2 separate regions of the Homo sapiens genome follow, and region 1 is linked to region 2. The links come from fine-mapping of genetic effects on gene expression. A gene starts in region 2. The other region holds a variant in brackets. All regions are shown on one strand. Distances are from middle to middle.

Region 1 (5,376 bases), 6.9 kb after region 2:
AGTATGACAGCTTTTACTCTACAGGCCAAAAACCCAATGTGCGAGTTTTTCCAATGCCAATTATACGTTCAGGGACTGAGAAAATGACCTTAGGATGGATCCACGGAGCCAGTGGACCCACTCTCAGCTGGACTTCAGCCAGCACTCGCTTTCTTCCCTGGCTTTTTGCACGGCCCTACTCTAAGAGATGGGCTAGGAGGAGTCTTCGGATCTCTGGATGTCAATGTCAATTCAGATCTTCAGATAGTCCTTCAAATAGCTGAGCAACCCTCTTTCCCCAGCAAAAAGTCACTCTAGTAAATGGTCATAGGTCCTGTTGTTTATCTGAAATCTCTACTTTAAAAACTGTCATGTCACAGGATTCTTTCTCCTGGGTACCCAGCCACCTCTTCAGTCAATAGTTCTCCGTTCTGGAAACCGACTCCAGTCAGGGGCTGTGTCTCATGCCTGTAATCCCAGCTACTCGGCAGGCTGAGTTGGGAGACTCGTTTGAGCCCAGGAGATCGAAACCAACCTGGGCAATGTAGTGAGAGCCCGTCTCAAAAAAAACAAATAAATAAAATGACATTGAGTAAACTAAAAAGTCATATTTTTCAAAAAGCTAACTCCAGTCCAGTTTATATATACACACGTAAATACACACACACACACACACACACACACAGCAGTCCACGTATGGGCCGCCCCTCACTAGCATTGCTGTATTCTGTCAACATCTCCTTCACTCTGGAAGTCAAGCCCTGTTGGCTGCCACTCCAGCCTTGCCAGTTGTTACAATGGGTGTGACCTTCTGGCTCCCGGCGATTAAGCACTTACCATGTGCCTCTCCTGCTTCAGGGCACCACGCCAGCCTATAAGCAGCCGCAGGGGTTGAGCCCTGCAGAGCCCCAGAGGCAGAGCTGCCCAAGGCTTTGGGAGCCCACCTCTTGCATCACTGTGCCCTGGATGTGAGACGTGGAATCAAGGAGATTATTTTGGAGCTTTAAGACGTAATGGCACCCTGCTGGGTTTCAGACTTGAGTGGAGCCTGCAGCCTTTCTTTCGGCCGGTTTCTCCCTTTTGGAACGGGAGTATTTACCCAATGCCTGTACCCCCATGGTACGTTGGAAGTAACTAATTGTTTTTGATTTTACAGGTTCATAGGTGGAAGGGACTAACTAGCCTTGTCTCAGATGAGACTTTGGACTGTGGACTTTTGAGCTAATGCTGGAATGAGTTAAGACTTTGGGGAAGGAACAGTTGAGAAGGCATGATTGGATTTTGCAATGTGAGAAGGACATGAGATTTGGGAGCGGCCGGGGTGGAATGATACCGTTTGGATCTGTATGGATCTGTGTCTCCATCCACATCTCATGTCAAACTGTAATCCTCAATGTTGGCGGAGGAGCCTGGTGGGAGGCGATTGGATCATGGGGGCAGGTTCTCATGAATGCGTTAGCACCGTCTCCCCAGTGCGGCTCTCATGATAGAGTTCTCACAAGATCTGGTTGTCTAAAAGTGTGTAGCACCTCCTCCCCCTCTCTCTCTCTTCCTCCTGCTCTGGCATGTAAGACGTGCCCGTGTCCCCTTCCTCCACCACAAGATTGTAAGTTTTCTGGAGCCTCCCCAGAAGCTGAGAAGAAGCTGCTATGCTTCCTGTTCAGCCTGCAGAACCGTGAGCCAATTAAACCTCTTTTCTTTATAAATTACCCAGTCTCAGGTAGTTCTTTATAGAAGTATGAGAATGAACTAATAAACCTGGTCTTAAGCCCCACCCTGATCAACACCCTCCCTGCCTGGACCCCCCTTAGCGCCCACTGGTCTATGGCAGTCCACTCTTGCAGCACCTTTGGGGGCTCTTGCTTTCCTCCCTTATCAAGCCTAGCCTGTCCCCAGCTGGGTTATGCTGCCATTTAATCCTACTTATTGGCTTTGCAGCCAGGAAAGGAGATGGGGGCAGATCCTGAGGGGGGCCCTGCTATCGTGTAGGGGAGAGACCTCTACAGGGTGGGGAAAGGGCTGACTCTTGAGAGAAGTGGCAATCCCTGCCAGCACTGAGGGCTCAGAGGGGTCTTGGGAACCAAAGTCATCAGGGGCATCCGCCACCTGGGTCTTCCCATCAGAGCAATTTCCCAAGTCAGCATCACTGAAAGCATAGCAATTGGGTTGCTGTGTCATCCTAGGCACCCCTCTGTGCCTCCCAGACCACCTGGGATGGAGCCCTCATGCTAGCTGATCAAGGTGCCACGCCCTCTCTTTATTG[T/C]TTTCTCAGGCCACTTCCAGCATCGATGGTGTCAGGTCAGGTCCTCTGGGTAGAAGAAATGGAGTCAGTTAGGAGTGCTGGAGACTGAGTAAGAGGTAAGCCTTGTTAACGTGATAGGAGGATGAAGCAGGATTGGGCAGAAAAAGACTTCATATCCCAATGCCAATCTGAACCTGTGAAAGGAACTAGAGAAGGAGCAGAGTAAGCAGGTAGAGGCTCAGAGTGAGATGCCATCTGATGAAACCTGGTCCAACCCAATAGGGAGCTATAGTGAAAGACTGCCCATGAGAAGGCTCTCCCACTGGCAGAGCTGGCCAGCCACTAGGATTCCTGCTGTGGTCCCTCTTTAGCTGAAGGCTGCCTGGTGGAAGTGTGGCCTTGACTCAGACAGTGTGGCAGATCCTGATGCTGTTCTAGCTGGAGGTCTCAGCTAACTGCAGCCCTTGCTGCTGACAGCATGCTCTTCTTTTTTTTTTTCCTGTGGTTTTTTTTTTTTTTTTTTTTTTTTTTTTTGAGACAGAGTCTCTCTCTGTTGCCAGGCTGGAGTGCAGTGGCGCAATCTCGACTCACTGCAACCTCTGCCTCCCGGCTTCAAGTGATTCTCCTGCCTCAGCCTCCCAAGTAGCTGGGACTGCAGGTGTGCACCACCAGGCCCAGGTAATTTTTGTATTTTTAGTAGAGATGGGGTTTCACCATGTTGGCCAGGCTGGTCTCGATCTCTTGACCTTATGATCTGCCCACCTCAGCCTCCCAGAGTGCTGGGATTACAGGCGTGAGACACTGCACCCAGTCCCTCATGCTCTTCTTCAAGGAAGCTCTGAGAGGCAGATTCCCATGGCTGCCGCACCTGAGGAGTAGCCTGGAAGAGGGTGAAGCTCCCTTTGGCCCTGTAGACTCCTTGCCCTTAGGGTAGAAATGCAGCTAGAGAAGGACAAGAGAGGAGCTTCTGAAAGTAGAGGGTGTGCACTGCCCTAGTCCAGGCTGAGGATGTTACTGTGTAGACCCAGTTCGACTTCCCTTCGGCTAAAGCCCCAAAGAGCCGCATCACCACCCAATACAAGCAGATGTGTGGTGGAAACGAAGTCTGAGTGGGAGATGTGGGCTTCAGGAATTGTTAAAATATTATATCTTGATTTTTGCATATTTTTTAAAAACATGCTGCGCCGGGCACGGTGGCTCACGCCTGTAATCCCAGTACTTTGGGAGGCCCAGGCGGGCGGATCACGAGGTCAGGAGATCGAGACCATCCTAGCTAACACGGTGAAACCCTGTCTCTACTAAAAATACAAAAAATTAGCCGGGCGTGGTGGTGGGTGCCTGTAGTCCCAGCTACTCAGGAGGCTGAGGCAGGAGAATGGCATGAACCCGGGAGGCAGAGCTTGCAGTGAGCCGAGATTGTGCCACTCCACTCCAGCCTGGGAAACAGAGTGAGACTCTGTCTCAAAAAAAAAAAAAAAAAAAAAAAACCCAAAACAACAATAACAACAAAAAAAACCATGTTAATCTATTGCTTGAGTCCTCCCAAGGTTGGGGAAGCAGCTCTTCCAAGGGAGGCCTGAAATTTAAGCTGCATTATCTTCGTGATGATTCCATTTCTGCATTAACTATTGCTATGGTTTTCATATTGGGTAGTTCCTGTAATTTGAGATCCTTCTTTTTCAGGTGGCAGCTGAGGCTTACTACCCCAGGAAAGGGATGCCACCAGAGAAGGCAGACAACCAAGATGGCGACTCTCAATTTTTGAGCTCCTAATTTTCTCATGTCAGACATAAGAAAAAAAAATATTTTTTAAAGAAAAAGCTTTAGGTTGCAAAAATCTAGGCCTTTCAACTTTAAAATCCTATTCTTGCAAGCCTTGGAGAATAAAGCTTATGCATAAACAGTAGATTTGGAAACAGAAATATGCCTAATTACCCAGAGCCATTCTTTCAATACGCCAGTGATTGTTTAAAGATTCTATAGGCTGGAGTCAATGGCAGGAGGCGGGTGGGAAAAGAGTCAAGAGGGAGGAGAGAAGAAGCAAGAGGGTTGGGTAGATATTGTCACATGACCCTGAGAGGAGGATTCTGGGTCAAACCCCTAGGGGGTTGTGTGTAATGGAGACTCCAGATCCATTTGGGAATCTGGCTCCAAAGAAGACTTCACCTTGCCTTCTGAGTGGAGCCCTGAAGTGGCAAGACTCATAGAATTCCCCCACGGGTCCACACAAGAGAGAATGAATAGAGAAGGCTGCGTGCTGGCTGGACCAAGGCAGCCTCGGGTGACACCACCACCACCACCGCCGCTGCCGCCATCGCCATCACCACTGCCGCTGCCATCACCGCCACCACCACCACCATCACCACCACCATCACCACATTATGGACAATAGCCCAATGTTTCCTGAGTTCCCTAGAGGGTTGAAAGAGAATAGGACCTAGAGAGATCACATAGTTGGGACAGGCACTCATTAATTTGATCCAATGACAAGAGACCAGATGGGAAGAAGGATGCCTTGAGAGATGTCAGTGTGCACCCATGGATAGAAGCAGCTGGTGACTGGGTACTTGGGAAGCCACATGGACACACACAAAGCTCCTGGAAGACGTTTTCAAGGAGTTGGGCTGTGCTGGGATCCAGAACTGGCTGAAGAAACCATGAGCTGACATAAAATTTCTGCCACCTAGCAGAATGGAGGCTCCATTTGGAAATTAAATTATATACTTAAAAAAACTATAATTGCTTCATTTCTTTTTTTTGAGATGGAGTTTCACTCTTGTTGCCCAGGCTGTAGTGCAATGGCACCATCTCAGCTCACTGCAAACTCCGCTCCCGGGTTCAAGAGGTGATCCTGCCTCAGCCTCCCGAGTAGCTAGGATTACAGGTGTGCGGCCACCATGCCCCGCTAATTTTGTATTTTCAGTAGAGACGGGGTTTTACCATGTTGGTCAAGCTGGTCTCAAACTCCTGACCTCAAATGATCCACCCACTTTGGCCTCCCAAAGTGCCAGGATTACAGGCATGAGCCACTGCGTGAAGCCAAATGCTTCATTTCTTTTTTTCTTTTTTTTTGTTGAGAGGGAGTCTCACTCTGCCGCCCAGGCTGGAGTGCAGTGCCGCAATCTCGGCTCACTGCAAGCTCCCGCGTTCACGCC
Region 2 (5,376 bases):
CTCGGCCTCCCAAAGTGCTGGGATTACAGGTGTGAGCCACCACGCCTGGCCCAAGATGGCTTTATTAACCTGCCTTGCCTCCCTCTCTGCACTGTACTGACACGGGTTATTAGTCTGTAATAGCAATAGTTACCATGTAATCATCATGGTTCAAATTGACTCCCACTCACCACAAGCTAAGCACTTCACATTTCCTTTCCTCATAACCCTAACGAGTTGATCCTATGATTAGCCCCATTTTACAGATGAGGCAACAGAGCCTGAAGGGTGAAATAACATGCCCCAGACCGAGTGTGCCTGGACCCACAGTCCGAACAGAGCACTGCCTCACTGGCCCTGAGAGTGTCTGTCATCTGGAAGGTTTTGCTATTATTGTCATGCATGGTCCTAATCCAGGCAGCCCAGGATGTGAGCTAGGCAGGGTAACTGGTGTGGGGAACAGATCCCTGGAGCCCTGCCGCCTCTACCTTCCCGGTATCACCAAGGAAACCACAGCGCCTTTGTTGTTGCCATGGCAACCATCTAAACTCTCTCTTTCCCTTGGTTTCACCATGGAGACAGCCAACGGGAAAGAAGTTCCTGAGTGGGAGGCAGTACAGCAGGGAGAGGTGAGAACGCGCCTCCAGGAACCAGGACTGGAAATTCCCACTCTGCTGAGGAATGCAGAGGCATTCCTGGAGCTGCACAGAAGTACATTGTCGAAGCCGGGATGTCCCTGGGGAAACATAGGTTGAAAGAATTGTTTTCTGAATTTATTTCTAGAGGTTGCCTTTCCTGTAGTCAGCCATTGTCCAAACCAAAGGAAATTCCCAAATTTTCATATCTCACAGATGCTGAAATTCTACTCGGCCAGGTCTTTTCCCTGTCTAATTTTGCTTCCAACTTGCTGGATGACATTGGGTAACTCAAGTACATCTCCCCAAGCAAGTGTCAGATGAATCTGACAAGTTACACCAATGGCATTCAGGCCTCCAGACTTCTAGGCCAGGATAAGTTCTTTAAGAAAACACAAGGTTCCAACCCAGGGTTGCCACACTTTTTAAATTTCTATTTTTTTAAGACAGAGTCTTGCTCTGTCACCCAGGCTGGAGTGCAGTGGCACATTCTTGGCTCACTGCAGCCTCCGCCTCTGAGGTTCAAGCCATCCTCTCACCTCAGCCTCCTGAGGAGCTGGGACTATAGGCACATGCCACTATGCCCAACTAATTTTTGTATTTTTTGTAGAGACAGGGATTCACAGACTGTTGCCCAGGCTGGTCTCGAACTCCTGAGCTCAAGCCATCTGCCTGCCTCAACCTCCCAAAATGCTGGGATTACAGGCATGAGCTGCAACACCCGGCCACCACACTTTTACTTGGGGAGATCAGGATGTCAGAATTGAAAACTGCATTTAATCTACAGAGGCAGGGCGATGTGACAGTTAAGAGCGGGCACAAGGAAATCAGACCTGCCGAGTTCAGGTCCCAACTCTGTGACATGCTGCTGTGTGACTTGTACCAGTTTGATCTCCCCTAGCCTTAGTTTATTCAGAAGAAAAAGTGGGTTAATAATTAGGCCAGGCGCAGTGGCTCATGCCTGTAATCCCAGCACTTTGGGAGGCTGAGGTGGGCAGATCACGAGGTCAGGAGTTCGAGACCAGCCTGGCCAACATGGCGAAACCCTGTCTCTACCAAAAAATACAAAAATTAGCTGGGTGTGCTGGTGGGTTCCTGTAATCCCAGCTACACAGGAGGCTGAGGCAGGAGAATCACTTAAACCCGAGAGGCGGAGGCTGCAGTGAGCCAAGATCACGCCACTGCACTCCAGCCTGGGTGACAGAGCAAGACTCCATTCCAGAAAATAAATAAATAAATAAATAAACAAATTAGCCGGGCATGGTGGTGTGTGCCTGTAGTCCCAGCTACTTGGGAGGCTGAGGCAGGAGAATCACTTGAACCCAGGAGGCGGAGGTTGCAGTGAGCCAAGATCCCGCAACTGCACTTCAGCCTGGGTGACAGAGACTCTGTCTCAAAAAAAACCAAAATTGTGTCTTTCTCTTAAGGTTCTTATGGTGATTGAGATACACTGTGCAAGGCTTTTTAACACAATGCCCAGAACATGGCAACACTCAATAAATACTAGCAAATATCACCACCATTATTTCCATCATTTCACTGAAGACATTTTAACAACAGAAAAATATATATCTTGGCCAAAATGATAGTTTAAATTGCATGCATTGAGCTTTTGGAAGTGTCACTCATTGATTCTCTGTTTCTTCAGGGTGGACCTAAGAATCCCTGGATTCAGTGATCTTGGGATTCTTTCTGCTCTAAGACGCAACGCTTTTGGGGTTGTTAACAGCCTTGATTAGCAAAGGAATGTTCATGGCCCATGGCTAAAGATAAGTGATAAATCAGGTGCCCTTAGTGGCCATCCTGAACTTGGATTAGACTCCGACTCTGCACAGAGACCTTTCATGCAGGGCTGGACTATTTCAGGAAATCAGAACCACAGATATGTAATCCTTCCCTACTCTCCTCCTTGTCTCTGTTGGTGACGTCAGGCTTCAGCTACACTAGCCGTTAACTGAGGTCCGAGGGTCCTGGCCTGGGATCCGGAGCCCCTAACTGCCTGTTCTGCCTTCCTGCAAAAGCTGGTTGTTTGGGCCAGTTGGTTTTTGGTTTCTGTGCGGCCACTCCCACCCCCACCCCAGCTCCCTGACCACGGGCTGCGGAAGAGTGGGACGTTATGGAACCTTCTCAGCTTATTCAGAGAGGCTTCTTCTTCCTATTTAGTCTCCCTCTGGCTTTCCCTGCTGGGATCTGGGTGGTAGAAGCAGCAGGGGGATCAACGAACAGGCTGAGCGCCAAGAAGCCTGAAGATTCCAGAATCTAGCGGGAAAAGCATTCAGAGTCAGAATGAGTAAGCAACTTCATCTCCTGGCCTTTACTTTTCTGTAAAACAGAGGCAATTCTATCTCCCTCATGGATGTGATAAAATAATACTTTGACTAGTAATAATAATATTCATTCAGGAGTGGATCTGGGTGTTGTGGGGCCTGAAGCTTATTCAGTGTGGAGGGTCCTTTTTAAGAAAGAAGAATACAAATTTACAAACACATCAAATATAAAAGGGGATATTTACTTAGGAGAAAAAAATCACAACAAATTACAATTAAAAAGAAAAACTGGGCCAGGCACAGTGGCTCATGCCTATAATCCCAACACTTCAGGAGGTGGAGACGGGCAGATCACTTGAGTCCAGGAATTCCAGACCAGCCTGGGCAACGTGGTGAAACTCCACCTCTATAAAAAATGCAAAAATTAGCCAGGCGTGGTAGCACACGCCTGTAGTCCCAGCTACTCAGGAGGCTGAGGTGCGAGGATCACCTGAGCTTGAGAGGTTGAGGCTGCAGTGAGCTGTGATCACGCCACTGTGCTCCAGCCTGAGTAACAGAGTGAGATCCTGTCTCAAGAAAAAAGAAAAAAGAAAAACTGAACAAATACTACAAATATCACAAAATCTAGAAAAATAATGTACTACATTTTATTAATTGTCTTCTATGCTTCTAATACCTTTTTCCTACATTTTTTGGCTGCATGCATTTTAGTAGCTTCTTCCTATGGCAATGGTTTTGTGGTAGTATTTTCTGTTTCTATAAAGAGATTATAAAGTTAATTCAGTCTTTTCCTTAGCACAGTTGGTCAAAATTTGTTTTTTATTATTGATGGCTTCAACTAGGTATCAATGACAAGCAAATTCTCTGCTTGCAATTGCCATTACATATTCATGATTGGAAGCATTTCCTTCAACCTTGCCCTGCCTTGCTTCATCCCCACAAACCCATCCTTTTACAGCCAGAATGCATTTGTTTCAGTGTGACTTTGAGCACTGCACTTTCTGTCATGATGCCTGGTGAGTGGGCACCACAGGCCTCAGGAGGATTTCTAGAAACCACTCTTCCACCAGGATGGCTAGCAACAAGCTGATGAAAGTGATTTTGAAATGCATCAGTATATCCCATTTACCCAAATAAATGAATCTCCAGGCCAGGCCTACTCCTAACAAATGCATAGCCCAGGACGAGACTAGAAAGGAGGTCCCCTTTTCATATGTTTAAAATAAATTCCTGAAAGTCATCAATCACGCTAACAAACCGTTAAATACACTGTGTCCCATCCTTCTACCCTGACAATTTGAAAGGCCAGATTCAAATTTAGAATTCTCAGAATCCTGGGTTCCATCGGGAATGTGTTGTGTGGGGAAAGCTGGCCCTGCCCCCTGGCTGGCTGCCGGTTCTCCTTCTCCAGGAGGAAGCACTTTGCAGCCTGAGGGCTGTGGCACGTGTGTGGATAGCCCAGGCTCATGGCTAAGATCGACCATTCCCGTGTACACAGCATTTTGGCAGCCCCTCAGGCCTGGGGTTGCACACCAGTGTGAGCCGGCCTTTGGGAGGACGTGGGCAGCGGTCCTGACGGGCCCTGGTAGCATGACTGATGTTGGCAAGGGTCTCTGGGCCTGGAGTATCAATCCAGGTCTTCTGATAAGCAGATCCAGGAATGGAATTGGGGATGCAAGAGGGTTCCTGAGGAGAGACATTTTTGAAAGATAAAAAGTGACAGAGGAGGGTTGGTTGGGGAAGGCTTCAGATCACAATGCTGATCTGAAATGTGTCGAGGGCAAAAATGGGCAGGGAGAGCCCCACACTGTCCTGGAGATCATTTACAATGTGGTCAACCCGATGGGCAGTTCTGGTGCAGACTGCCCATCAGAGGGGTCCTGCTTTGGGCATAGAAAGCTCCCAGCATGCTCACTGCTGGCCGGGCCGCCCAGGAGGGGCTGTAGTGAATTGTGAAGGGGCTTCAGCTGGATGCTGCCAGCTAACTACTCTCCTTGCCGCTGACCAGCAAGTTCCTTCTGGAAGGGAGATCTGAGCCACACTCCTCCCTGACTGCCACGGTGCACAATAGCCAGATTGGCTTTAGTAAGTGGGAGTTCATGCTGCTGGGCCCATATGTCATCTCTGCTTCTGCCAGTTCATAGCTCATGGCATATGCTAGCTGACATCCGTGGCTGAGCTATTTTGCCTACTTGGCTATTTCGTGCCCCTTTCGTGACTAACGCTTTCAGGTAGTTGATATATAATGCAAAGATCACCATTCTTTATGTCAATTTCCATATATCCATGAACTGCCTCTCCCCCAGACCTCCTGGTCTCTGATCATTCATTCTTCTAGGCTGGCCCCTGACCAGTCTGCCAAGTCAGGTGATAAGGTGAACTCTTGCCACTGCCATGAGTTCAGATTTTTTTCACCTTTGGCAAAGATTCCTTCCACACAAAGTGCATGACCAGGGACAATGCTGGAATCCCCCTGATCAGAAGGGTTTCCCCTG

The links. PIP is the estimated chance that this variant, and not a neighbour inherited with it, causes the effect.
Region 1: its variant is fine-mapped to the expression of LINC00570 in testis (GTEx, PIP above 0.99).

What each region holds. Positions count from the first base shown.
Region 1 is chr2:11,398,121-11,403,496 of GRCh38, forward strand. LINC00570 (long intergenic non-protein coding RNA 570) reads left to right here. Exons shown (of 3, transcript NR_047499.1): 2 at 2,252-2,337; 3 at 3,905-4,957. Among named protein-coding and RNA genes, the nearest start is that of LINC00570, 6.8 kb to the left of the region's middle. The variant T/C (reference allele first, on the strand shown) is at 2,243.
Region 2 is chr2:11,391,268-11,396,643 of GRCh38, forward strand. LINC00570 (long intergenic non-protein coding RNA 570) reads left to right here and starts at 2,714. Exons shown (of 3, transcript NR_047499.1): 1 at 2,714-2,904.